Linked DNA regions of Homo sapiens: all the other regions are linked to region 1. The links come from fine-mapping of genetic effects on gene expression. A gene starts in region 1. Each other region holds a variant in brackets. All regions are shown on one strand. Distances are between the middles of the regions.

Region 1 (5,104 bases):
CCACGCCCAGCTAATTTTTGTATTTTTAGTAGAGACGGGGTTTCTACTATGTTGGCCAGGCTGGTCTTGAACTCTTGACCTCAGATGATCCACCTGCCTCGGCCTCCCAAAGTGCTGGGATTACAGGCGTGAGCTACTGTGCCTGGCCAGAATAAGCTATCTTCTTAACACAGTGGTTACTTAGGTCTCTGTTTGGTCTTTTAGTCCTATTTTTTTCTGTCCCACGAATCTAGTGCGATATATTCCTCTTGGATTTGGTCACTATTTACACATAGATGGCAGGAGAACTCTATTTTTCTGGATCCTAATAGGCAAGGTCTGTGCTACCTGAGCTGACATGAAGAAGACAAGGTGGGGAGGTGACCAGGTTGTTTGCTCAGCTGTATAAGCCATGTTAGAATTGAATATACACTACAGATGACTTATAATGTACGTGCTCAAGAGTTGAGGGGGCTGAATTTACATATTTATCCTTTCGTTTTTTCAACATATCATCTCTCTCCCTCTCACTAGCACAAATGTTTGCTTAATAGATCGAAGCTAAGTTAAAAACTTTCACCATAAGTTTCCTAACCAGAAATAGTCAAGACAGTCTGTGGTAGGTCTCCCTCCCAACTGCAAATGGAGAAACTGCGGCAAAAGAATAAAATGTTAGAATTTCCTGCTTCAATATCTCTTGGTTTAGTAGTCACTGTATTCCTGATAAGAAAGAAACTTACTGCTTTCCCCTCTGGGGAATCGAATGTCAGAAATCTGAGGTCAGAATCTGTCTCCAAGGGCCGCTCCAGATCATAAGGTTCTCCATTCACTTGAGCAGCCACTGCAGTATCTGCCAGTGTTGAACTTCAGCAGTGGAAGGTGGGGATGAAGAAAAAGACAGGGTTACAAGGCACAAAAAGGAAAATATCACATGTTCTGATTCCTATATGAGAGTTTAAAAAGTTGATCTCACAGTGGTAGAGAATAGAGTGATAGTTACCAGAGGCTGGAAAGGATGGGGGAGGGGAGATGAAGAGGTTGGCTAATGGGTACAAAAATAGAGTTAGACAGAAGGAATATGCTCTAATGTTCCATAGCAGAGTTGGGTGAATACAGTTAATAATAATTTATTGTATATTTCAAAATAGCTAGAAGATTTGAAATAGTCCCAACACAAAGAAATGATAAATGTTTGGGGTAACAGATATCCTGAACACCCTGATTTGATCATTACATATTGTATGCATATATCAAAATATCACATATACCCATTCATATGTTCAATTATTATGTATCAATTATTAAAAAGTAAATTAATGATTTAAAACAGACAGGGTTACAATCCACAGTGGGGAGAAAGTTGCTCATCTCTCAGCAACTGTAAACTTGCAAAGGTGAAATGAGTTACCAGAGCAACAGAAGCTTTCATTTCTTTCCCCAATGAAAGGACAGAGACTCTGATGCAGAAACTAATACAGATAAAACAAATCTCAGGCCGGGTTTGGTGGCTCATGCCTGTAATCCCAGCACTTCGGGAGGCTGAGATGGAAGGATCGCTTGAGCCCAGGAGTTCAAGACTAGCCTGGGCAACATGGAGAGACCCCGTCTGTATAAAAGAACAACAACAAAAAACAAAAACAAAATCTTCAGGAAAGGCTATCTTAATGGGGACGGAACAGAAACAAGCAGACCAAGTTTTCTTCCCCTGCTCAAGTGAAGAGAAAGTAAAGGGGCAGAAGGATAATCCTGGTAGTTACAGGATGGGCCTGTTACCTGATCTGCCGGGCTAGTTGGTAGGGGGTTGTGTTCCATGCCACAGCATCAATTTTCTGGCCTCCAGGAAGTGATATCTTAATAGTCCGGGGTTCCTTCTGTGCCATGCTTGCTAATCTCTTTACCTGAGCAGCCCACAGCTCCTCAAAAAGGCCAAGCCGCTCTGCCAACCAGCGTGGAGGGGTCGACACAACTGCCTGGAGGGAAAGATATATTAGCAGGTAACACACGTCCCATCATTCTTTCTTAGAATTGCAGATGATGGCACTTTGGGATGGTTAAGTGGACTTCGTCCGAATTCCTACTTTTTAAGGGGATTGGGTGATACAAGACCCTAGGCTGGGGGTCCTTCGAGCTCAGAGTCCCCCAGACCGCTAACTCGAGAATTAGATAACGAGTTTAGATACGAGTCCTTTTCTGGGGACTCGGAGGACCAGGGAGAGGAGGAGTGGCGTGAGGCTGGGTTAACATAAAAATTTGGGGGCTTCGGCTGGGCTAAGTCTGATGCGGATCGGAGCTTTGGGGGTGCCTCACGCACCGTGTGTAGCCTGCAAGCCTGTAAACCTTGGAGCCGGAGACACCGCCACCTCTGATACAGGGCCATGTTCCTTCACACCAGTGCCTACATCCTCAAACAGATTATCGCCGCTTCTCCTCCACGTAATTCTTCATTGGCTTCTGGTCCAACAAAGTCCGTGTCTATTGGTTACTACAGCTGCCACTCTAGTCTGGCACCACCTCCAGGAACTCCGAAGAGGTACACCCTACACAGCACCAGCAGCGGTGTGAGTGGTTCCGGCTGACCGGAAGACCGAAAATGTAACACACCCTCGCTATTCCCCCAGACCCGTGGCGTTTCAGCTGAAACCCAAAAATAGCAATTAGGCGTCCTGTGGCTTTGAGGACAAGGGCAGGTGAACTTTTGAGGGCGAGAGTGGGAGAAAACCAGACAGGAAATGGTAGTAATTTCCCTTTAACTATACATTTTATTTTACGTGGTCCTTACAGCAAGTAGCAAAACTTAAGAGCATAGACTGGGGAACCAGACAGACCTAGTGTAAATTCTGGATCTGCCATTAACTATGTAATTTTGGGAAAATTATTAAACTTCTCATATTTATTTAATAGAGACCGGGGGGGGCGGGAGGGGGGGGCGGGTCTCACTATGTTGGCCAGGGTAGTCTCGAACTCCTGGCCTCAAGCAATCCCTCCCCTCCCCCCCACCAAACCGCCACCGCGCTCCGGCCTCCCAGAGTTCTGGAATTACAGGCATGAGCCGCCTTGCCTGACCTATTTAATTTCTCTAAGCCTCAATTTTCTCAACTATAAAATGAGAATAGTGTTGCTCCCAATTGTTGAGTTAAATTTTATGTAAATCGTCTAGTGTGGCCCATGGTTTTTTGGTAATGGGCAAAAGCAACAAGAAGCTATTATGATAAATGACTGTAACAGTTTTATTTTTTAATTTTGAGACAAGGTCTCACCGTTGCCCAGGCTGGAGTGCAGGGGTACAATCATGGCTCACTGCAGTCTCGACCTCCTGGGCTCAACTGACCACCTCAGCCTCTGGAGTAACCACTTTAAAGCTGGAGCAAAGATGGCCGCGCGCAGTGGCTCACGCTGTAATCCCAGCACTTTGGGAGGCCGAGGCAGGTGGATCACCTGAGGTCAGGAGTTCTAGACCAGCCTGGCCAACATGGTGAAACCCCGTCTCTACTAAAAATACAAAAATTAGCTGGGCGTGGTGGTGGGCGCCTGTAATCCCAGCTACTTGGGAGGCCGAGGCGGGTGGATCACCTGAGGTCAGGAGTTCTAGACCAGCCTGGCCAACATGGTGAAACCCCGTCTCTACTAAAAATACAAAAATTAGCTGGGCATGGTGGTGGGCGCCTGTAATCCCAGCTACTTGGGAGGCTGAGACAGGAGAATCGCTTGAACCCGGGAGGTGGAGGTTGCAGTGAGCCGAGATCACGCCATGCACTCCAGCCTGGGGGACAAGAGCGAGACTTCATCTCAAAACAAAACAAAAACAAAAAAGCTGGAATCAAGAATCTGCAGAGGTCAGTTTGAGTCCCTTTATACTCATGGTGCTTAATAGGGACTTTATAGACCTTTTAATCTTTTTTTTTTTTTTTTGAGATGGAGTTTCACTCTTGTTGCCCAGGCTGGAGTGCAGTGGCGTGATCTCGGCTTACCGCAACCTCCGCCTCCCCAGGTTCAAGCGCTTCTCCTGCCTCAGCCTCCCGAGTAGCTGGGATTACAGGCATGTGCCACCCCAGGCCCAGCTAATTTTGTATTTTTAGTAGAGACAGGGTTTCTCCATGTTGGTCAGGCTGGTCCCGAACTCCCAGCATCAGGTGATCCGCCTGCCTCAGCCTCCCAAAGTGCTGGGATTACAGGCGTGAGCCACCATGCCCGGCCGAGACCTTTTAATCTGACAGATGAGGAATTTAAGGTCAAACAGCAAGTGCTGATGGTGATTTCTGAATCCAAGCTTGGTTTTCTTTTACCACACCATGCTTTCTCTAGAAGAGTTTGCTCCCAGTATACTCCCCCATCACCTCAGAAAGAGGTGCCTGACTAGAATTTTAGCTCTCTGCTCCCTACATAAGCCCTTTGCCTCTAATTCCTATCCCAGCTCTCAACTTCCTTTATCCTTTCTCTTCCCTCTCCCTGATACATCTAGGACACAGGACTAGGTAAATTTCATCAAATTTACTCAGTAAATATGGGAACATGGTCAGATTTGTAGTAAAGTATGAAGGGAAACTGACTTGGGGGTAGCCATCAGGCTGTCAGTAATTCTCATTAGTCCCCTCACCTGGAGGTGGGGATGGTTAGAGTTGGTTCTGAAGTTTCAATGGTGATAGAATCAAGGGTTGTAGAGGAAGAGGTGTCAGAAAAAGCAGTTTAATCAAGGTTTCCGGAGAGACCAGGTTTCCCGGGCAGGGCAGTTGATCTGAGTCACAGGAGCCTCCATGGATCTTGGGTCCATCTTCTGGTAGACACCCTGAAATACAAAGAGAAAGAGACAAGAGTGTGGGAGAGGAAGATAACTTGTGTGTGTGTGGTTTGGAGAAGGTAGTTAAGAATTTTTAAATGGCATTCAGAAAGGGTGGCAACAGGCAGAATTCTTCTCATGCCTCTGCACCAAAAGGGGAAAGGTGTATTGCAGGCAACAAAATGGTAGGTGCCCAATAATTATTGAATCAAGTATGTACCAATCACGGTATTGATTTGATGCTCTCATTTACTAACTGCTTACTGTGTGCAATGCAGTGAGCTGGGTGCTGAGGGGATGCCGATCAATCAACTACCACATCATCACCTATGTAACTTGTGTTGCAGTGGA
Region 2 (5,104 bases), 44 kb before region 1:
GTGTCATTATTCACCTTTTTCTATCTTTTTTGGTCACAGAGACTCTGCTGAGAGGCTGATAAAAGCTCTGGGTTCTTAGTGCTTAGGAGTTAGAATCTGAAAAAAACAGGCTGGGCACGGTGGCTCATGCCTGTAATCCCAACACTTTGGGAAGATGAGGCTGGTGGATCACCTGAGGTCAGGAGTTTGAGACCAGCCTGGCCAACATGGCGAAACCTCATCTCTACTAAAAATACAAAAATTAGCCGGGTGTTGTGGCACACCACCTGTAGTCCCAGCTACTCAAGAGGCTAAGGTAGGAGAATCACTTGAACCTGGGAGGCGGAGGTTGCAGTGAGCAGAGATTGCACCACTGCACTCCAGCCTGGGCAACAGAGTGAGACTCCATCTCAAAAAAAAAAAAAAAAAAAAAAAGCTCTGGTTCTCTTCCTAAGATAGGTATACACAAAAAACATTTAGCATAGAGTTTCGGAGTTTCCACACTCGATGTGGCCCATCTTGCCCTACTCAGCAAGGGGTTCAGTTGTGGCTTACAGCAGTGAGGCTGATCTATACTCCATCCCCTCAAGGCCGTCCCTCAACACCCACGGGTGCCCTCTGCTGCAATCCTGACAGGAGCTTGGCAAAGCAGCTCTTCTAAGGCCCTGAAAAAACGGCTGAGGCAGGCTAGCCATTCAGTGCCTTTTTGAATAAAATGAAATCTAAACTCTTGACATGGCCAAGAAGGCCCTTCATGCCTGGCCAGGCGTGAGCCTCCTCCCTGGCCTCATCCCAACGCTATTACTGCTACTCTGGCCACACTGGCCTCTCTGTTCTTTATTGGACATGTCAATCCTGGGCCACCTCAGGGTCTTTGCCGAAGCTGTTCCCCATGCCTGGAAAAGCTCTTCCTCTCTAGTTGCACTGCTGGCTCCTGGCTGCTAGGGTGTCAGCACAGATACCTTCCTCCAAGAAGCAGCATTAGAAAGGGGCATGTGTCCCCACCCCCCAGCACCCTTTTTCTCTGTTGCACCATCTTAGTTTATTTTGCTCAGGGCACTTGCCACTTCTGAAATTACCTTTTTTTTTTTTCCTTAGTCAGTCACTGTTTGTCTTCACCGTTAGGGGGCGAGCTCCACGAAGTCAGTGGCCTTGCCTGTCATCTCCCAGAACAGGGCCTGGCGCACACACTATGCACTCAGTGAATATCTGTGGAATGAAAAAAGGATCATAGTGGAGGTGAGATAAGAATCTTGACTCAATTCTCTGTCCCACCAAGGCGGGTGCTGGCAACCCCTGGCCCCCATTCTAGGCAAAGTTCCTGCCTTTCCCTCATGTCTCTATTGCCGGCCGGCCTGCTCTTTTCCCAGATCTCTGGAGCCACTCCCTCCCAACCAGCATCTAACAAAAACTCTTTTGTGATTTTATGCCTGGGGTATTTCATCTGAGTCAATTGGCTTCTCCAGCCTTACCTCAGCTGAGTCCAAAGGTCTGATCAGTGTTTCCAGTGTAACAGCCAACTCTGTGGTCCCAGGGCTCAGAGCTCCACTCCAGGGGAACGAGGGAACTGACAGAGGACGGTCCAGCCTCTGCTCCCTGCGCTTTCGTTCCTGGGTCTTGTGGAAATAAAGGAAAACCAACTTTAAAAAAGCAAAGGCTGGCCGGGTGCGGTGGCTCATGCCTGTAATCCCAGCACTTTGGGAGGCCGAGGCAGGTGGATCAGGAGGTCAGGAGATCAAGACCATCCTGGCTAACATGGTGAAACCCTGTCTCTACTAAAAATACAAAAAAATTAGCTGGGCGTGGTGGTGGGCACCTGTAGTCCCAGCTACTCGGGAGGCTGAGAGGCAGGAGAATGGCGTGAACCCGGGAGGCGGAGCTTGCAGTGAGCCAAGATCGTGCCACTGCACTCCAGCCTGGGCGACAGAGCAAGGGTGTCAGCCATCTGCACTTGCATTTTGACGGAGCTTCGAAGGCAGGCAGAGGAGTGGGACACCTTTATAGCTGAGGAAAGTGAAGGCTTCAGGTGTGCCCTGATTGGAGGCTGTTGGTGTGGGGAAGCTGCCCGTGCATGGGCTAACTAGAAGCAGGGCATCCTGTGTGCTTGGTTAGGGGTGCATTTTTGGCTTTCCCTGGTTGGTCCTAAAGTGAGGACAAAATTAAGGAAACTGTCAGTTACTAATCAAATTCTGGCCATTTGGGGCTGATTGTTACAGACATTATTGGTTATTGTTTAGCTTCCTGGATTGTCACTAGAGATAGCAATCTGGCTTCTTGCA[G/A]GCCTGATTTAGAGCAGGAAGACCTCCCAGGTTAATTGTTGCAGATAATGAGTTAGTTTCCCCAGCAAGTGACCGCAGGCTGTGGGTGAGAGTTGTATTTTTTTTTTTCTTGAGATGGAGTTTTGCTCTTGTTGCCCAGGCTGGAGTGCAGTGGCGAGATCCCGGCTCACGGCAACCTCCGCCTCCCAGGTTCAAGCAATTCTCCTGCCTCAGCCTCCAGAGTAGCTGGGATTACAGGCTAATTTTATATTTTTAGTAGAGACGGGATTTCTCCATGTTGGTCAGGCTGGTCTCTAACTCCCGACCTCGGATGATCCGCCCACCTCGGCCTCCCAAAGTGCTGGGATTACAGGCATGAGCCACTGTGCCCAGCCTAGAGTTGTATTTTAATATATGGTCTGGCCATTGTTCATTTGTATAATCAGTTTCTTAGTGTACAGATCAGTCATTTGGGGATTCTTTCTCCCTTCCCTTAGATGTGTGAATGCCTTGGAATAGTGGAATCATTGAGTATTTCATTTCCTTTGTTCAAGAGCTCTCTACCAAAGGTATTCTCTGTGCAAAGATGGTGACAGATGTGGTAAAAAGAACAGGATGGGGCCAGGCCTGTCCCCAGAGGCTGCAGTGCAGTTAGGGAACTGAGGTGTGTTGTTCCTGAGAACTGCATATGCCACATGACTGGCTCAGAACAGGGGCTTCTGATGAGAGGAATTAGGAAGGCGTTATGGACAGTGTGGTTTCTGGAGTTCCGCTTTGAACCAAAAGCTGGATATCTATAGATGGAAATTGGGAAGGGAAGGGCGAGGGCACTCTTGGAAGGGAATACTCTGAGGAAGGGCGCGGGTGTTGCGGGCCTCCGTTTGGTCACTCGCTCTCTTCTGTGCTCAGTGCTTCGGCCCGTAGAGCCACTGGACACTGGAGACAGTGTGAAGGTGCCTGCTGGGTTGTGACGGCTTCAGTGCGGGGCAAGGCCTGGTGGGAAGAGCCTTTCTTATCAAGATGAGGAGCCTGAATTTGGGCCCTGGGCAGTAAAAATCGCAATAATAACCAGCACTTAGTGAGCACCGGCCTCAGAGAGTCCCTGCAAACCATGAGGCAGTTACTGTTATCATCTCCATTTTACAGATAAGGAAACTGAGGCAGTGATTAAGGAACCTGCATGGGACCACACAGTATCAGAGGGGAGAGAATGATCAGATGTTGTGCTTAGCAAAAAAATTGTCTGTAACTGTGCTCCCCCAGCTGCTGCCTCCCGATTCAAAGTCTTTGTTCTTAAATGTGCGTCCTATTAGTAAGTACCCAGCCGTTACTAAGTACCCAGCATGGCCTCAGCATTTGCATGTATTATCTAACTTAATCTTCACAGCCCTCTGAAATAAGGAACTGGGATTATCATTCCCATTTTACAGAAGAGAAAACTGAGGAGCTAAGTAGCTTCCCTGAGGTGGTGCAGTCCAGGCCCCTGCACATCTACCTCTGTGCCACACTGCCCCTTGTCAATAGGCAGGGATGTAACTGCCCATCAGTCAGGCCCTGATCCACAGCAGTGGATCCAAGAGCTGACCCAAGTTAGGGGCTCTTGTCTTTCTGGATCACCCTTTAAAGAATTTGATGTAAGCTACAGATACTCGCCCCAGAAAAATGCACACACACAGACACACCGCATTTTGCATACTTTAAGAAATTCACAGGCTGGGCGCGGTGGCTCACCCCTGTAATCCCAGCACTTTGGGAGGCTGAGGTGGGCGGATCATGAGGTCAGGAGATCGAGACCATCCTGGCCAACATGGGAAAACCCCGTCTCTACTAAAAATACAAAAAATTAGCCGGGCGTGGTGGCAGGCGCCTGTAGTCCCAGCTACTCGGGAGACTGAGGCAGGAGAATGGCGTGAACCCGGGAGGCGGAGCTTGCAGTGAGCCGAGATGGCGCCACTGCACTCCAGCCTGGGTGACAGAGCGAGACTCCACCTCAAAAAAAAAAAAAAATCACAGATCCCCACAAATCTTTCCATGGGCCCTGCTAGGCAAGCAGGCCATAGGGGAAGACGTTTGGGGTAAATGCTTCAGCCTTTTTGGCTCCAGTCTAGGGCCAAAGGGCAAGCCTTTGAGTTCTACAAGGTTTCATTTTGGGGACAAGGAAAACAAAATTCCACATCTATTTTCATTTACTTCATCTGAGAAAGGAACAAAAGGCAGCAGCCTGCCCACCAAGCCCCCATTTTGGGGCTGACCTAATTACCCAGCTTCTCTCCCACACTCAGATGGCTGAACGCTGCTGGAGGAAATCTTCTAATTCTGCTGGTTTCTGCCAATGCACACGTATGGTTTCTAATCCCAGCTGGGCCTTTAACACTACTTGGCAGCTCTTACTGTACCAGATAAACACTCACACCCCGTTCCCACAATGGTCATTCCAACCCTTCTTTAATGATTCATTAAGCTTTAAAGTTTCCATGTGATAGCAGAAGCCCAGCTGCACATATTTCAATTCACACCTTTCACGGATTTATCCTGCTTCTCCCTCCACCTGTGCTCTAGATCCTTTGATTTTTTTTTTTTTTTTTTTTTTTGCTATTTATTTAGTGGCTCCTGTGCCTGTCATTGGGCTAGGCTCTGGGATGCCTGTCATAGTCTCTGCTCTGGTGGAGCAAATAGCCCTGAGACAAAGACCATCATTCAATAAATATTAATAATTACAAGTGCCAGGCGCAGTGGCTCACGCCTGTAATCCCAGCACTTTGGGAGGCCGAAGCAGACGGATCAAGAGGTCAGGAGATTGAGACCATCCTGGCTAACATGGTGAAATCCCATCTGTACTAAAAATACGAAAGAAAATTAGCTGGGCG
Region 3 (5,104 bases), 56 kb after region 1:
GATGGTTCAGTGCTTCTTCTTGGTTAAAAAACAAATTATATGCCTCTGTGTGTGTGTGTGTGTATACACACTATATATACATACATATGTACATATACACATAATATAACTATATATAACATTATGTATATATAACATATATATAACATATTATGTATATTATATTACATATATTATACATATTATATATATTGCTAACTTCCCAGTGTAAAACTTATTTAGAAGTTTGGTGATGGTTCAGTGCTTCTTGGTTAAAAAAAAAACTATGGTAATCCCAGCACTTTGGGAGGCCGAGGCGGGCGGATCACGAGGTCTGCAGATTGAGACCATCCTGGCTAACACTGTGAAACCCCATCTCTACTAAAAATACAAAAAATTAGCTGGGCGTTGTGGCGGGCGCCTGTAGTCCCAGCTACTCGGGAGGCTGAGGCAGGAGAATGGCATGAACCTGGAAGGAGGAGCTTGCAGTGAGCTGAGATTGCGCCACTGCACTCCAGCCTGGGTGACAGAGCGAGACTCCGTCTCAAAAAAAAAAAAAAAAAAAAAAATTATGTCTGTGTGTGTGTGTGTGTATATATAGTATATATATATTATATATTATATATACAGACAGAGAGAGAGAGGGTCTGTCTGTTGATGGTAAATTTCTGTTTTTGTTTCTGTCTTTATGTTTTCCTGGTTCTTGAAAGTAGTTTTGCTTTGTATGCAAATCTACACTGACAGCTACTTTCTATCAATGCTATAAAAATATTTTTCACAACTGCCTCTGGCTTCCACTGCCGCTGCTGAGAAGTCTGTCATCAGTTTAATTGTAGTCCTTTTTAAAAATTTAAAAAAATTTTTATGGGTACATAGTAGGTATGTATCTTTTGGGGGTACATGAGATATGTTGATATAGTGTGTAATAATGACATCAGAGTATATAATAGGGTAGCCATCACCTCAAACATATATCATTTCTTTGTGTTACAATCATTCCAATTATACTTTTCCCCCAACCCCCTCACCTTGAGACAGGGTCTCACTCTGGTCCCCCAGGCTGGCGTACAGTGGTGCAATCTCGGCTCACTGCAGCCTTAATCTCCCAGGCTTAGGTGATCCTCCCACCTCAGCCTCCTGAGTAGCTGGGACTATAAACACATGCCACCACACCTGGCTAAATTTCATGTTTTTTTAGAGACGGAATCTCACCATGTTGCCCAGGCTGGTTGCAGACTCCTTGGCTCAGGCAATCCTCCCACCTCAGCCTCCCAACTTGTCAGGATTACACGTGTGAGCCACCATGCGCAGCTCCAATTATTACTCTTTAATTGTAGTCCTTTTATACTGATCTTTTTTTTTTTTGGCTTTTTTTTTTTTATCATTTTCTTATTGTGATTAAATATATGTAACATAAAGTGTGCCATTTCAGCCATTAAATGTACAATTCAGTGGCAGTAACTACATTCACAATGTTGTGCAATTCTCACTACTATTTCCAAAATTTTTCACTACCTCCCTTAGACCTCATCACCTCCCAAAGGCTCCACCTCTTAATACTACCACATTAAGGACTAGGTTTCAACATATGAATTTCGGGGGGACATAAATATTCAGACTACAGTACTCTGTACCAATAACTCCCCCTTATCTCTTTTTCCCAGCTCCTGATAACCTTTAATCTCTCTCTATGGACCTAACAATTCTAGGTATTTTGATAAATGTAATCATACAATATTTGTCCTTTTGTGTCTGGCTTATTTCAGCATGTTTTCATGGTTCAACCATTTTGTAGCATTTATCAGACTTTTCTTTCTTTTTTTTTTTTTTTTTAAGATTTAGGGTCTTGTTCCATCACCCAGAAGAAAGTGTAATGTCATTCCTTTTTTAAGGAAAATTGTGGTAAAATACACGTAAAATTTACCACCTTAACCATTTTTTTAGTGTACAGTTCAAAAGTTAAGTACATTCACACTGTTGTGCAACCAAACTCCAAAACTTTATTTTCCCAAATTGGTATACTATATCCACTAAACAATAACTCCCAATTCTCCCCTTTCTCCAGCAACCATGATTCTACTTCCTGTCTCTGAATTTGACTACTGAAGGTGACTGATGTAAGTGGCATCATATAATACTTGTCTTTTTGTGACAGGCGTGTTTCACTTAGCATAATGTCATCAAAGTTCACCCATGCTGCGGCATGTATTAGAATTTCCTTCCTTTTTGGCCGGGCGCAGTGGCTCACGCCTGTAATCCCAGCACTTTGGGAGGCTGACATGGGTGGGTCACCTAAGGTCAGGAGTTCAAGACCAGCCTGACCAACATGGTGAACCC[CTG/G]TCTCTACTAAAAATACAAAAATTAGCTGGGTATGGTGGCGCGCGCCTGTAATCCCAGCTACTCAGAAGGCTGAGGCAGGAGAATTGCTTGAACCCGGGAAGCGGAAGTTGCAGCGAGCCGAGATTGTGCTGTTGAACTCCAGCCAGGGCAACAAGGACAAAACCCCGTCTCAAAAAAAAAAAAAAAAAAAAAAAATCCTTCCTTTTTAAGACTGAATAATATTCCATGTTTGTATACATCACACTGTTTATCCATTCATCCACTGACAAACATGTAGACTGTTCTTCCTTTTGACTACTGTGAATAATGCTGCTATGAACATGCCTATACAAATATCTGTTTAAGTCTCTGTTTCCATTTCTTTTGGGGTATATATCTAGAGGTAGAACTGCTGGATCATGTGGTAATTCTATGTTTAATTTTTGAGGAACCACCAAACTGTTTTCCACAGCAACTGCACCATTTTACATTACTACAAGAAATGTAAATGGGTTCCAATTTTTCCACATCCTCTCTAAGCCTTGTCATTTTCTAGTTGTTTGTTTGTTTTGAATTATAGTTACCCTAGTAGATGTAAACTCTGGATGCTTTTAAAACTGCTTGTTTTATAATTTCATTACAATAACTAGGTATAAAATTTTTATTTATGCTATTTAGTATATGTTATTGCTTCCTTTATCTTAGATTCATATTTTTCATCACTTTTAGGGTGTTCTCAGCCCGTGTTATCTTTTTTTTTTTGAGATGGAGTTTCGCTCTTGTTGGCCAAGCTGGAGTGCAACGGCGCGATCTCAGCTCACCGCAACCTCCACCTCTCGGTTCAAGCGATTTTCCCGCCTCAGTCTCCCGAGTAGCTGGATTACAGGCATGCGCCACCAGGTCCGGCTAATTTTGTATTTTTAGTAGAGACGGGGTTTCTCCATGTTGGTCAGGCTGGTCTCGAACTCCCAACCTCAGGTGATCCGCCTGCCCCAGCCTCCCAAAGTGCTGGGATGACAGGCGTGAGCCACCACGCCCAGCCAGACAGTGTTATCTTCTAAAGAACTCAAAAGTTCTCTCCTTTTGTACAGAATCTCCCAGGCTCAAATGATCCTCCCGCCTCAGCCTCCTGAGTAGCTGGGACTGTAAGTACACACCACCACACCTGCCTAATTTGTATTTTTTTTATAGAAATGAGGTCCCACTGTTGCCCAGGCTGGTCTTGAACTCCTGGGCTCAAGTGATTCTCCCACTTTGGCCTCACATGATGGGATTATAGGTGTGAGCCACCACGGCTGGCCTTCATTTTTCATTTTCCCCACTCCTTATTTCTCCTGTTGCATTCTGATGTCTTCAGAACTACATTCTTGCGTATTCTCTTTCAAGAGTTCCTATAGATTATTTTTTTCCATCTGTCCAAATATCTTACCTGTTGTTCATTTTGTTATTCCATTTAATCTTCCTCTAACATTTCATATACATTACTCTACACATTCTGTCTGATAATTCCAATCTCTGAAACTCATTTGGGAAGGAACTAAATCGATGGATTGTCAATTGTGGTGGTCTGTTTTTCTGTGTGTTCAGAGATCTTTCACTGTGAGCACGTTTGTTTTTAACCTATGGGATTCCTTGTGGCCTAAACAGAAAATGTGTTCATATAGAACAACTATATCTCAGAAGCCAGGGGGAGCTAATTACACAAGAGCACATTTGCCCTTCTCCAGAGCCTAGTTTAAATGCCAAAATCACATAGTATTAATGTTATCGGCATGCTGGTTAATGTTAGCTTTGCCATTCTAATACATCCACTGTTTTTGGTTCTGCTTAAGTTTTGTCAAGGATGTAGTTATTTTATAACAAAATGACTCCTTGGAATAGATGGTTGACTATTCTGCCAGAAGTCAAATCATAATTATATACAAACAACTGTTTCTTCAACTAGACTACAGAACTTCTTCAAAACAGTGATTATAACTTATTTGTTGTTGTTTCTTTGCTGTTACTAAATAGTAGCTGAATGAATGACAACAGGATATTATCATTTTCTTTTTTTGAGAAAGGCCTCGTAGTTTGGTAGGTCGAGGTGGGAGGATCGCTTGAGGCTAGGAGTTCGAGACCAGCCTGGGCAACATGGTGAAACCTTGCCTTTACAAAAAATACAGAAATTAGCCAGGTATGGTTGTGCGTGCCTGTAGTCTCAGCTATCTGGGGAGCTGAGGTAGGAGGACTGCTTGAAACCCAGAGGTCAAGGCTGCAGTGAGCCGTGATCGTGCCACTGTACTCCAGCCTGAGAGGTTAAAAAGCCACTACTGGCTGGGTGTGGTGGCTCACACCTGTAATCCTAACACTTTGGGATCAACTGAGGTTGGGAGTTCGAGACCAGCCTGACCAACATGGAGAAACCCCGTCTCTACTAAAAATACAAAATTAGTCAGGCGTGGTGGCGCATGCCTGTAATCCCAGCTACTTGGGAGATTGAGGCAGGAGAATCGCTTGAACCCGGGAAGCAAAGGTTGTGGTGAGCTGAGATCGCACCACTGCACTCCAACCTGGGCAACAAGAGCAAAACTCCATTAAAAAAAAAAAAAAAGCCACTACTGACCACAATGTCAATTTTCACAGAATTTACAATCACCACAAACCATGTAACATGCTTAGTTACATAACCTTTTCTTCTTTGATTTTTAAGTTAAAAAAAAAATTGGCTGACCTTGTAGAACTGCTAGGATGTTCAACAGCGACCTTATAGAATTGCTAGGATGTTCAACAGATGCTTTCTTTGCTAATGACACCCCCCCTTACT
Region 4 (5,104 bases), 190 kb after region 1:
GCTATGTTTACCAGATTGGTCTTGAACTCTTGGCAACAAGCAATCCTCCCCACTAGGCTTCCCAAAGTGCTAGGATTACAGGTGTGAGTCATCCCACCCAGTGAGCTTTCCCATCTTTTGCCTGCTTCTCTAGGATGCCAATCTGAATTCACCTTTTCCTTTAGCTTTGTCCCACACCAATCACTCCCTCAGCTTTCTATTTATCATACTACGTTCCCGCTTCCTAGCAACTTCACATCTTGATTTTCCATTTGGGCTCTTTTTTAAGTCTTCTAAAGAATTCAGGTTCCTCATAAAAGGAGTCATTACGCTTGGGCAACATGGCGAGACTCCCTCTGTACAGAAAATACAAAAATTAACTGCGGTGGTGGCGTGCGTCACTAGACCCAGCTAGTCAGGAGACTGAGGCAGGAGGATTGTTGAGTGACACAGCAAGACCCTGTCTCAATTTTTAAAAAGCGGGGCCGGGCGCTGTGGCTTACGCCTGTAATCCTAGCACTTTGGGAGGCAGAGGCAGGCAGATCACTTGAGGTCAGGAGATCAAGACCATCCTGGCCAACACGGTGAAACCCCATCTCTACTATAAATACAAAAATTAACCGGGCGTGGTGGCGGGAGCCTGTAGTACTGGCTGCTCAGGAGGCTGAGGCAGGAGAATGGCGTGAACCCAGGAAGCGGAGCTTGCAGTGAGCCGAGATCGTGCCGCTGCACTCCAGCCTGGGTGACAGAGCGAGACTCTGCCTCAAAAAAAAAAAAAAAAATTAAAATTAAAATTAAAAGCGGGGAGGTGCGGGGGGTGATTACTTGTTGAATACAATTCATACAGTTAGGTTTGAGGAAGAACTTTTTTTCTTTTTTTTTGAGATAGAGTCTCACTCTTGCCCAGGCTGGAGTGCAAGTGGCTCGATCTTGGCTCACTACAACCTCTGCCTCCCGGGTTCAAGCGATTCTCCTGCCTCAGCTCTCGAGTAGCTGAGATTACAGGCGTTTGCCACCACGCCCGGCTAATTTTTGTATTTTTAGTAGAGACACGGTTTCACCATGTTGGCCAGGCTGGTCTGAAACTCCTGACCGCATGTGATCCACCCGCCTCGGCCTCCCAAAGTGCTGGGATTACAGGCGTGAGCCACCGCGCCCGGCCCAGAACTTCATTTTTAAGATAATAAACTGAGGGGCTGAGACGTTTTAAGAGACTGTGAACACCTGGGCTGGCACTGTTTTGAGAACAATCAACGAAAGGGGAAGGGAGAGAATAACCACCGCACTTCCCAGAGAGTCTAGGCATGATTCTGGTCCCTTAACAGTTACCTGTTTAGGGTCCTGTATGCGCTTTCCACGTTCCCTTCCTGTACCATCACAGTCCTGGCGATGAACTTCAGATGTTTTGCCATGACCTTGGATTTAAACCTTCACTCTGTAGAGCCTAAAGGATGATGGAGAAAGGGCGAGGAAAGCAGAAAGAGAAACGCAACATAATACAAACTACACCGCGCGGCTTATTTAGGATTTGGAAATTCAACATGCTCAGGGACGCGCGAGATGGAGCACATGGAAGTCATCCTAGAAAGTAGACGTGAATCGTTGTCTCTTATTCTCACTGCCAGTCCAAATCCTCGCATAGAGAAGAAAAGAGATGGCAGCAGGGCGTTACCACAAAGACGCGTCGCCGGGCATGAGAAGGACACGAGCGACAAGGATGCGCCACAGGGTCCCAACCACCACACATAGTTCCAAAAGGGGTTGAGTTGGGAGTTGGGGAAGGACTCTTTGTTGGTCTTTGGAAAAGGGGGCGAAAGCCCGCAAACCTGCCCTCTCGCCAAGCCAGCCTTCCTTTCCCCAAACCCTGCACAACTCCTCACCTCGCGCGCTCAGTACCTAGCCCACCGGAAGGGTTCTCACTACCGGAAGCGGAAATTACGGAATCGCCAGCGCCGCGCAAAGAAACAGGCCGAGGGAGACAACGTGCGTGGAAACCATAGCAACGTCCTTTCTGGCCTCTGTTGACTGCCTCTCTTCCCCGGGCCTGGACTCTACACCTGACAAAGCAAAATACTCATTGACTTAAATTCCCCCGAAACACGTTTCTCGCCCTCTCATGGAGTCGAAGTCCTTCGGCCTCTGAGAAGGTCAGCCCAATTTCATACCCCTTAATCCTGTGAAATCCTTGATAAATATTTGAGCCATTTCTCTTTCTCGATGGAAAACAAGAGAAGTAGGCGCTTCCTGAGGATGCTTCCTGTTTTCTCTTTGGAAAGGACAGACTCTTTGAGATCTGCTCTCCGGACGAAAAATAGATTGATTCATACACGTCATCTGCCTAAGTGCTAAGGAAAAGAAATAAACATACTGTGAGTTTCCTATATCATCTTCCCACTAATTTAACTACATAAAGTGAAATCAATAAAGATATATGGGAAACACCTGCAGGGTTTAGAATAAAAAATTATGTCAGCTTCTATGCCTTTTCGTGCTA[A/G]TGAGACCTACTGAAAAACCTCCTTTTAAATTTCTTCTTCGCTGTGGAGACACCCGTCCTCCTATTTGTATGCTACCTGTACATATCCATTTATGGTTATTCACGTAAGTTAACATCTAATGGCTGTAGGAAAACGTACCTCCCTTAGAGAGAGAGTGCGCGCGCACGCTCACGCACACACACACACACACAGACACAGACACAGACGTGTGCATCATCAGTTGATGCTAATAACTTACACTAACACTTAAGCCCACCTCAGAGTAAGCCAGGTCCAAAGTAACGAAATAGAACTAGATTGGGACATTATTATGCTTGTCAACAAACTTTCACTGAATGACTACTCTGTGTCAGATACTGTTGATACCACTCTAGTGCCTCCTGGACCACTAGGACCACATAAAAGATACTAAAACAAAGTAGTATATAATAAATGCAAAATAAATTATATGGGCTGGACGCGGTGGCTCACACCTGTAATCCCAGCACTTTGGGAGGCCAAGGCAGGCGGATCACTTGAGCCCAGAAGTTCGAGACCAGCCTGGGCAACAAAGCAAAACTCCGTCTTTACAAAAAATATAGAAATTAGCCGGGTGTAGTGGCATGGCCTGTTGTCCTAGCTACTTGGGAGGCTGAGGGGGAGGATCACCTGAGCCTGGAAGGTCAAGGCTGCAGCGAGCTTTGATCACACCACTGCACCCTGGCCTGGGCAATAGAGTGAGACCCTGTCTCAAAAAATTAAAAATGAATAAATAAATAAATAGGGCCAGGCGCGGTGGCGCACGCCTGTAATCCCAGCACTTTGGGAGGCTGAGGCGGGTAGATCACCTGAGGTCAGGAGTTTGAGACCAGCCTGGCCAACATGGTGAAACCCTGTCTCTACTAAAAATACAAAATTAGCCAGGCGTGGTGCCACATGCCTGTAATCCCAGCTGCTTGGGAGGCTGAGGCAGGAGAATCACATGAACCTGGGAGGCGGAGGTGGCAGTGAGCCGAGATCGCACCATTGCACTCCAGCCTGGGCAACAAGAGTGAAACTCCATTTCAAAAAATAAATAAACAAACAAATAATAAATAAAATATGCCACAGCATAATGTGGTGAAAGGCACTGGCTTCAAAGTTGGGAGATCTGGATTCTATCCCAATTCTAATACTCATCAGGCCTATGACCTTGAAGAAGTCATTTAAAACCAGGGGTCTGGAGACTACAGTTTACAGGTCAAATCCTGCTCCACCTGTTTTTGTAAATAAGGCTGTTGACCTACAGTCATGCTTATTTGACTGTGTGTTATGTATGGCTGCTTTGGGCTACGATGGCCGAATTGGGTAGTTGCAATAGAGACATAAAGCCTACAAAGCCTAAAATATTTACTATCTGGCCCTTGCCAGACTCACTCTATTTCCTCATCTCTAAAATGGGACTAATTTTGCCCTGTTCAGTCTCACGAAATTTGTCATGGGAATCAAATAGAATAAAATATGAAGATATGCCGGGCACGGTGGCTCACGCCTGTAATCCCAGCACTTTGGGAGGCTGAGGCGGGTGGATCACGAGGTCAGGAGATCGAGACCATCCTGGCTAACACAGTGAAACCCCGTCTCTACTAAAAATACAAAAGATCAGCTGGGCGTGGCGGCGCTCGCCTGTAGTCTCAGCTACTTGGGAGGCTGAGGCAAGAGAATCACTTGAACCCTGGAGGTGGAGGTTGCAGTGAGCTGAGATGGTGCCACTGCACTCCAGCCTGGGTGACAGAGCGAGACTCTGTCTCCAAAAAAAAAAAAAAAAAAAAGAGAAAAAAAATATGAAGATACTTTGAAAGAAAGGAAGGGAGACAGGAACTGATGTTAATAAGTTCTGTTAACCACTACCATTGGATCAGCTGGAGAGTAACATTTTTGAGAGCCTACTATATACTAAACCCTGTACTAGGTGGGTGTTTTTTATTTTTGTTTTTGTTTTTCTGAAACAGAGTCTCACTCTTGTTGCCCAGGCTAGAATGCAGTGGCACCATCATAGCTCACTGTAGCCTGGACCTCCTGAGCTCAGGTGATCCTTCCACCTCAGCCTCCCGAGTAGCTGGGATTACAGGGACATGCCACTACGCCTAGCTAATTTTTTGTATTTTTAGTAGAGACTAATTTTTTGTATTTTTAATAGTTTCACTATGTTGTCCAGGCTGGTCTCCCAAAGTGCTAGGATTACAAGTGTGAGCCACCCCACCAGGCCCCAAACCCTGCACTAGGTATTTTATGTACATGATTCCATTTAATGGAGTAAACGGCCAAACACTGAGTGTATAGATCATGTTTAACAGAAAGAATGATAGGATGGACTTGAGTTAGTCGTTGAAAGAGGGCAGGGTTTAGATAACAGAAGCAGGAAAGGTTTGGCAAGGTGAACAGCATGAACAAGAGCTTAGGGGCAAAAAGGTGTAGTGTTCAGGAGTCAAAACAAAACAAAACAAAAACCTGCAACAGAGAGATCATGCAGGGGAGCACAGGGAAAAATAGAGACTGTGACTAAAGATTTTGGACTTTCTTCTCAAAGCATTCGAGAGCCATTGAAGAATTTGAATAGGATATGATATGCAAAGCACTGTTCTAGGAAAATTAACTTGGTTATCAGCGAA
Region 5 (5,104 bases), 210 kb after region 1:
ACTGCCCTTATTGTCAATCTTTCACTTCCATTCTTACTGGCTTCTTTCATCTGTGCTCAACTATATGCAGGCTGCTCTTTGGTCCTATTCCCCTTTCCAGCCGTTGCTTCTCTTTTTCATTACCAGATTTTTTAGATGGTTGGTCTGTACTCACCTCCCTTTCCTCATAATGTACTCACTCTTTAACTCCACAAAAATCTAGCTTTTCTCCAAGCACTCAGTTAAAACTACTTTCTTGAGAGTTACAAGTGACCTCCTCCTCCTTGGCCTCTTGGTAGCTTTTGATGGATTATATTAAACTTTCTCTTCTAGACTCTATAATACAAACTTGGCTATCTGCCTACTTCTCCAGTCAAATCCTTCTCCATTCCATTCATTAATTTCTCTTCCTCCCACTCACTACAGGCACAGTCACTGGCCTTCTGAGCTTGTGTGTACTGGCTCTGTTGAGCTCATTTACTTTCATATCTGTGACTTTGCACTTAGAACTCTAGCCCTGATCTAGTTCAGTGACCTTTAGGACACCCTCATAGGGCTGTCACCATAAACTCAGCTTGGCCATTACCAAATTAATAACTTCTGTCCTAAACCACTCTGGCCTCCCATAGTTCCCACTTTGGTCAACCATTTTCCCAGACATCCATGTTTAAAACCCATGAGTTATTTTAACTCACTCCTCATTTATACTTCATATAAAATTATCACTCAAGCAAGGTATTTTCTTCATAATATTTATTTTTCTCCTCTCCATTCATAATGCCAGAGTACAGATTGTTTCTGGAACAACGCAAATCTCATGAGTTGCTTTCCACTAAATTATTTACATCCTGCATACAACCTGAAGAGTGGTTTTTCTTTTTCTTTTTTTGAGATGGAGTTTCACTCTTGTTTCCCAGGCTGGAGTGCAATAGCGCGATTTCGGCTCACTGCAACCTCCGCCTCCCAGGTTCAAGCGATTCTCCTGCCTCAGCCTCCCAGGTAGCTGGGATTACAGGCATGTGCCACCACACCCAGCTAATTCTGTATTTTTACTATAGACAGGGTTTCTCCATGTTGGTCAGGCTGGTCTCGAACTCCCGACTTCAGGTGATCAGCTCACTTCAGCCTCCCAAAGTGCTGAGATTACAGTCGTGAGCCACCACACCTGGCCGGTTTTTCTAAAATATCACTTTTCATCGTGTTTTTACCATAATGAAGAACTTACTAGGCTCCTTGTTGATTATGAGTCCAGACTTCAGCCTGACACCTGAGACTCTCTGAAATTTGCCCCTATGTTGCCACATGTGAAATTACTAAGCAAGTATTAGGAGCCTTGTAAATTTTATATTTTTCTTAATTCCCACTGTTCCCTTCCATATACCCTCTCCTTCAATCATACCCTATTTGCTAAACATATTATGCTTGTTCTATTCCCCCCTCCTGTGCAGCTCTTTCACTCTTTTTTTTTTTTTTTTTTTTTTTTTAGTATAGAGTCTCACTCTGTCGCCCAGGCTGGAGTAGAGTGGCGTGATCTCGGCTCACTGCAACCTCTGCCTCCCGGGTTCAAGTGATTCTCATGCCTCAGCTTCCCAAGTAGCTGGGATTACAGGCACGCACCACCACGCCTGGCTAACTTTTGTATTTTTAGTAGAGATGGGGTTTCCACCATGTTGGCCATTGAACTAGCCTTGAACTGCTGACCTCAAGTGATCCGACCACCTTGGCCTCCCCAAAGTGCTGGGATTACAGGCATAAGCCGCCATACCTGGCCTCTTTCACTCTTGGAATAACTATTCTTCCTCCTAATTGCTTCTGTCCTTCCATAACTACCCACCAATCAAAAGCTCATCTATTCTTCAGGGTGTATCTCAAGCACAAATGCCTCTTGAAAGCTTTTCAGACAACTCTAGCCTGTACTAATCTCTCTTCTTACATTGGCTAAAGCACTGCCAGTATCTTCTGCTTTCAAATTTATATATAATTTAACATCATAACATACCTTTTCATTTTGTTCTAAGTGTTTCGTAAACTTGAATTTTATAAATCCTTGAGGACAGTAACATAGATTTCTTTTTTATCAGCATCAGTTACCTTAGCAGCCTTAGGCATAGATTACATACCTATTGAATACTACTGAACTGAAATTTAACTGTACCATATCTTCCCAGTGTTCTGTAAACAGGGTTAGTATTAAATCTTAGTGAAACATGGCCAAGTTGAGATGAATACCTGCAATGAAGTACTAATTATTTGGTTCTCCCATCCACCAAAGCCTGGTATTCCAGCCCTCTAT[G/T]TATTCCACGTCACTAGGGATGTCCTGTCTCCCCCCAGCCCCCAATCCCCAATCAACTCACAGGTTCCGTTGTTACTGGTTTCACAGTTACAGGCTTCGGATGGTCTGCACGTGCTGTTTCAAGACTAATGGTAGTCTCTATTGCTTCTGTTATGTCCTTATCCAACCTGTTCTACCCTCAGTAGGATTTGGGAAACACAGAGTTATCAGTTTTTCCATCCAACATCTTCATAGATTCTCTACTTAAAGTTCTCCCCTTCACCACCTCCACCCAGCCCAAAGACTTAAGCTCAGGGATTCCCCCCTACCCTATGCTTGCATAGATTTGTACCCATCTCATTCAAAAGTCCCTTGATGCCCCTCCTCAGTGTCTTAGCAAACTTACTGAGGACAATTTATAAAGTTCTGGCTTTTTTCTCCTCCCCAGATAGGTTAACAAATCTGTTTTGGGCCTACTACTTAGTTTCTCCTCATCAAACTCATTTTTATTCTTGTTAATCAGATACATTTCAACATTGCCCAGTTTCTTTTCTTTTCTTTTTTCTTTTTTTTTTGTAGATGAAGTCTGGATCTGTCACCCAGGCTGGAGTGCAGTGGAACGATCTTGGCTCACTGCGTCCTCCATCTCCCGGATTCAAGTGATTCTCCTACCTCAGCCTTCTGAGTAGCTGGGATTATAGGCATATGCTACCATGTCCAACTAATGTTTTTGTATTTTTAGTAGAGACGGGGTTTCACCATTTTGGCCAGGCTGGTCTCAAACTCTTGACCTCAAATGATCCACTCGCCTTGGCCTCCCAAAGTGCTGGGATTATAGGCATGAGCCACTGCGCCCGGCCAGTTTCTTTTTAATTGTTACTTATCCTAACCCTTTTAGATGTAGAGTTCACTCACCAGCCTGTCCTCTGACTCAAATATGGAGTAATCAATGGTGAAATCTGCACTAAAGTCATCTGCAGAGGAGAAAGAAAATCAGTAATAATTAAAGAAAAATGTAACTCTAGATCTGGAAATGAAAAGGGAAGAAATTACTCAGAATAGTTTAACTTAAGTTGTAACATTTATTGGTATAATCCAATTTTATTTAACTAATGTTAAAAATGACTGTGAATGTGTATGCATTTATATTTTCAATGTAGGTATCTAAAATAATTTACAAATTTGAAAAATTTTCAAGTTCTTCTTTTTTTAGAGTCAGGGTCTCACTGTGTTAACAGGCTGGAGTACAGTTGGTTCAATCATAGCTCACTGCCACCTCCAGCTCCTGAGCTCAAGTGATCCTCCTGCCTCAGCCTCCTGAGTAGCTGGGACTACAGCCATGTGCCACCATGCCCAGCTAATTAAAAAAAAAAAAATTTGGCCGGGCACGATGGCTCAAGCCTGTAATCCCAGCACTTTGGGAGGCTGAGGTGGGCAGATCACGAGATCAGGAGTTCAAGACCAGCGTGGCCAACATGGTGACACCTTGTCTCTACTAAAGATACAAAATTAGCCGGGCATGGTAGCACACGCCTGTAGTCCCAGCTACCTAGGAGGCTGAGGCAAGAGAATAGCTGGAAGCCGAGAGGCAGAGGTTGCAGTGAGCTGAGATTGTGCCACTGCACTCTAGCCTGGGTGACAGCATGAGATTTGGTCTCAAAAAAAAAAAATTTTTTTTTCTATAGAGACAAGGTCTTGCTATGATGTCCAGGGTGGTCTTGAACTCCTGGGCTCAAGCAATCCTCCCATCTAAAAATCACTATCTGGAAAAATAACATCATCATGAGTCTTTTTTTTTTTTTGTGACGTAGTCTCATTCTGTCGCCCAGGCTGGAGTGCAGTGGTGTGATCTCAGTTCACCACAACCTCTGCCTCCCAGGTTCAAGCGATTCTCCTGCCTCAGCCTCCTGAATAACTGGGACTACAGGCAGGTGCCACCATGCCCAGCTAATTTTTGTATTTTTAGTAGAGACAGGGTTTCACCATGTTGGCCAGGCTGGTCTCAAACTCCTGACCGCAGGTGATCCACCCACCTCAGCCTCCCAAAGTGCTGGGATTACAGGCATGAGTCACTGCGCCCAGCCCATCATAAATCTTTTTTCATTTTTTTTTTTTGAGATGGAGTCTTGCTCTGTCACCCAGGCTGGAGTGCAGTGGCACGATCTCAGCTCACTGCAACCTCTGCCTCCCGGGTTCATGCCATTCTCCTGCCTCAGCCTCCCAAGTAGCTGGGACTGCAGGCACCCGCCACCACACCCGGCTAATTTTTTGTATTTTTAGTAGAGACAGGGTTTCACTGTGTTAGCCAGGATGGTCTCGATCTCCTGACCTCGTGATCCGCCCGCCTCAGCCTCCCAAAGTGCTGGGATTACAGGTGTGAGCCACCACGCCCGGCCCCATCATGAGTCTTGATAGGTTTTGTTCATAGCCAGATTTTTCTCTGACCCCATTGCTCTGCTTCAAAGTGAAGAGCAAAGTCTCAGAACTAAATATCCTGAAGCCTCTCTCCAGTTGGCTAAGGGCAAGAGCCTTTCATGTACTCACCATAACTGGGGGTGACTGTATAATAATAGACCACCTGATAATATTCATCCTCTCCCAGTCTTTCTTCATCCTCATATTCTTGTCCTATGGGGACAAGGACTAGAGGTCAAGGGACATCTGGAACACCTTACTAACAAAAGGACACCTGGAGATGACCTCAGCGCTCCCAGCTTTCTTGCTCTTTCTTTCTTTTCTCTCTCTCTCTCTCTCCTCCAATAGTCATACTCCTTTCTTGCCTGTGCACCTCTACACCCCTCTCAGTCTTCTGGGATCCATATCTGTAATGAGGCCTGTTACTCCGTGCCCTTT

Direction of the effects. Alleles are on the strand shown, and positions count from the first base shown. SD is a standard deviation of normalised expression in the study named. Not every link is listed here.
In carriers of allele G in region 5, the expression in hypothalamus of the gene that starts at base 2,388 in region 1 tends to be lower than with T alone (small effect, 0.28 SD a copy in GTEx).

The links. PIP is the estimated chance that this variant, and not a neighbour inherited with it, causes the effect.
Region 2: its variant is fine-mapped to the expression of TARS2 in unexposed skin (GTEx, PIP 0.95).
Region 3: its variant is fine-mapped to the expression of TARS2 in whole blood (TOPMed, PIP above 0.99).
Region 4: its variant is fine-mapped to the expression of TARS2 in whole blood (INTERVAL, PIP 0.94).
Region 5: its variant is fine-mapped to the expression of TARS2 in hypothalamus (GTEx, PIP 0.92).

What each region holds. Positions count from the first base shown.
Region 1 is chr1:150,484,703-150,489,806 of GRCh38, reverse strand. TARS2 (threonyl-tRNA synthetase 2, mitochondrial) reads right to left here and starts at 2,388. Exons shown (of 18, transcript NM_025150.5): 1 at 2,291-2,388; 2 at 1,753-1,949; 3 at 720-843. The coding sequence starts at 2,356. It overlaps LOC124904416 (a long non-coding RNA gene), which reads right to left. Exons shown (of 2, transcript XR_007066600.1): 1 at 5,018-5,104; 2 at 4,453-4,762. RefSeq lists enhancers at 2,294-2,563, 2,057-2,563.
Region 2 is chr1:150,528,741-150,533,844 of GRCh38, reverse strand. It overlaps FALEC (focally amplified lncRNA regulator of ECM1), which reads right to left. Exons shown (of 6, transcript NR_186305.1): 4 at 1,452-1,595; 5 at 1,059-1,188. Among named protein-coding and RNA genes, the nearest start is that of FALEC, 16 kb to the right of the region's middle. RefSeq lists an enhancer at 125-1,115. The variant G/A (reference allele first, on the strand shown) is at 2,259.
Region 3 is chr1:150,428,884-150,433,987 of GRCh38, reverse strand. All of the region lies in intron 2 of RPRD2 (regulation of nuclear pre-mRNA domain containing 2), which reads right to left. Among named protein-coding and RNA genes, the nearest start is that of TARS2, 56 kb to the left of the region's middle. The variant CTG/G (reference allele first, on the strand shown) is at 2,317.
Region 4 is chr1:150,290,654-150,295,757 of GRCh38, reverse strand. It overlaps MRPS21 (mitochondrial ribosomal protein S21), which reads right to left and starts at 1,897. Exons shown (of 3, transcript NM_031901.6): 1 at 1,860-1,897; 2 at 1,309-1,423. The coding sequence starts at 1,391. It overlaps LOC105371434 (a long non-coding RNA gene), which reads left to right and starts at 1,938. Exons shown (of 2, transcript XR_922129.4): 1 at 1,938-2,126; 2 at 2,261-2,458. RefSeq lists an enhancer at 1,550-1,609. The variant A/G (reference allele first, on the strand shown) is at 2,474.
Region 5 is chr1:150,273,862-150,278,965 of GRCh38, reverse strand. C1orf54 (chromosome 1 open reading frame 54) reads right to left here. Exons shown (of 6, transcript NM_024579.4): 2 at 4,796-4,879; 3 at 3,167-3,225; 4 at 2,334-2,444. The region is part of intron 1 of LOC124904414; the gene reads left to right. Among named protein-coding and RNA genes, the nearest start is that of C1orf54, 3.6 kb to the right of the region's middle. The variant G/T (reference allele first, on the strand shown) is at 2,273.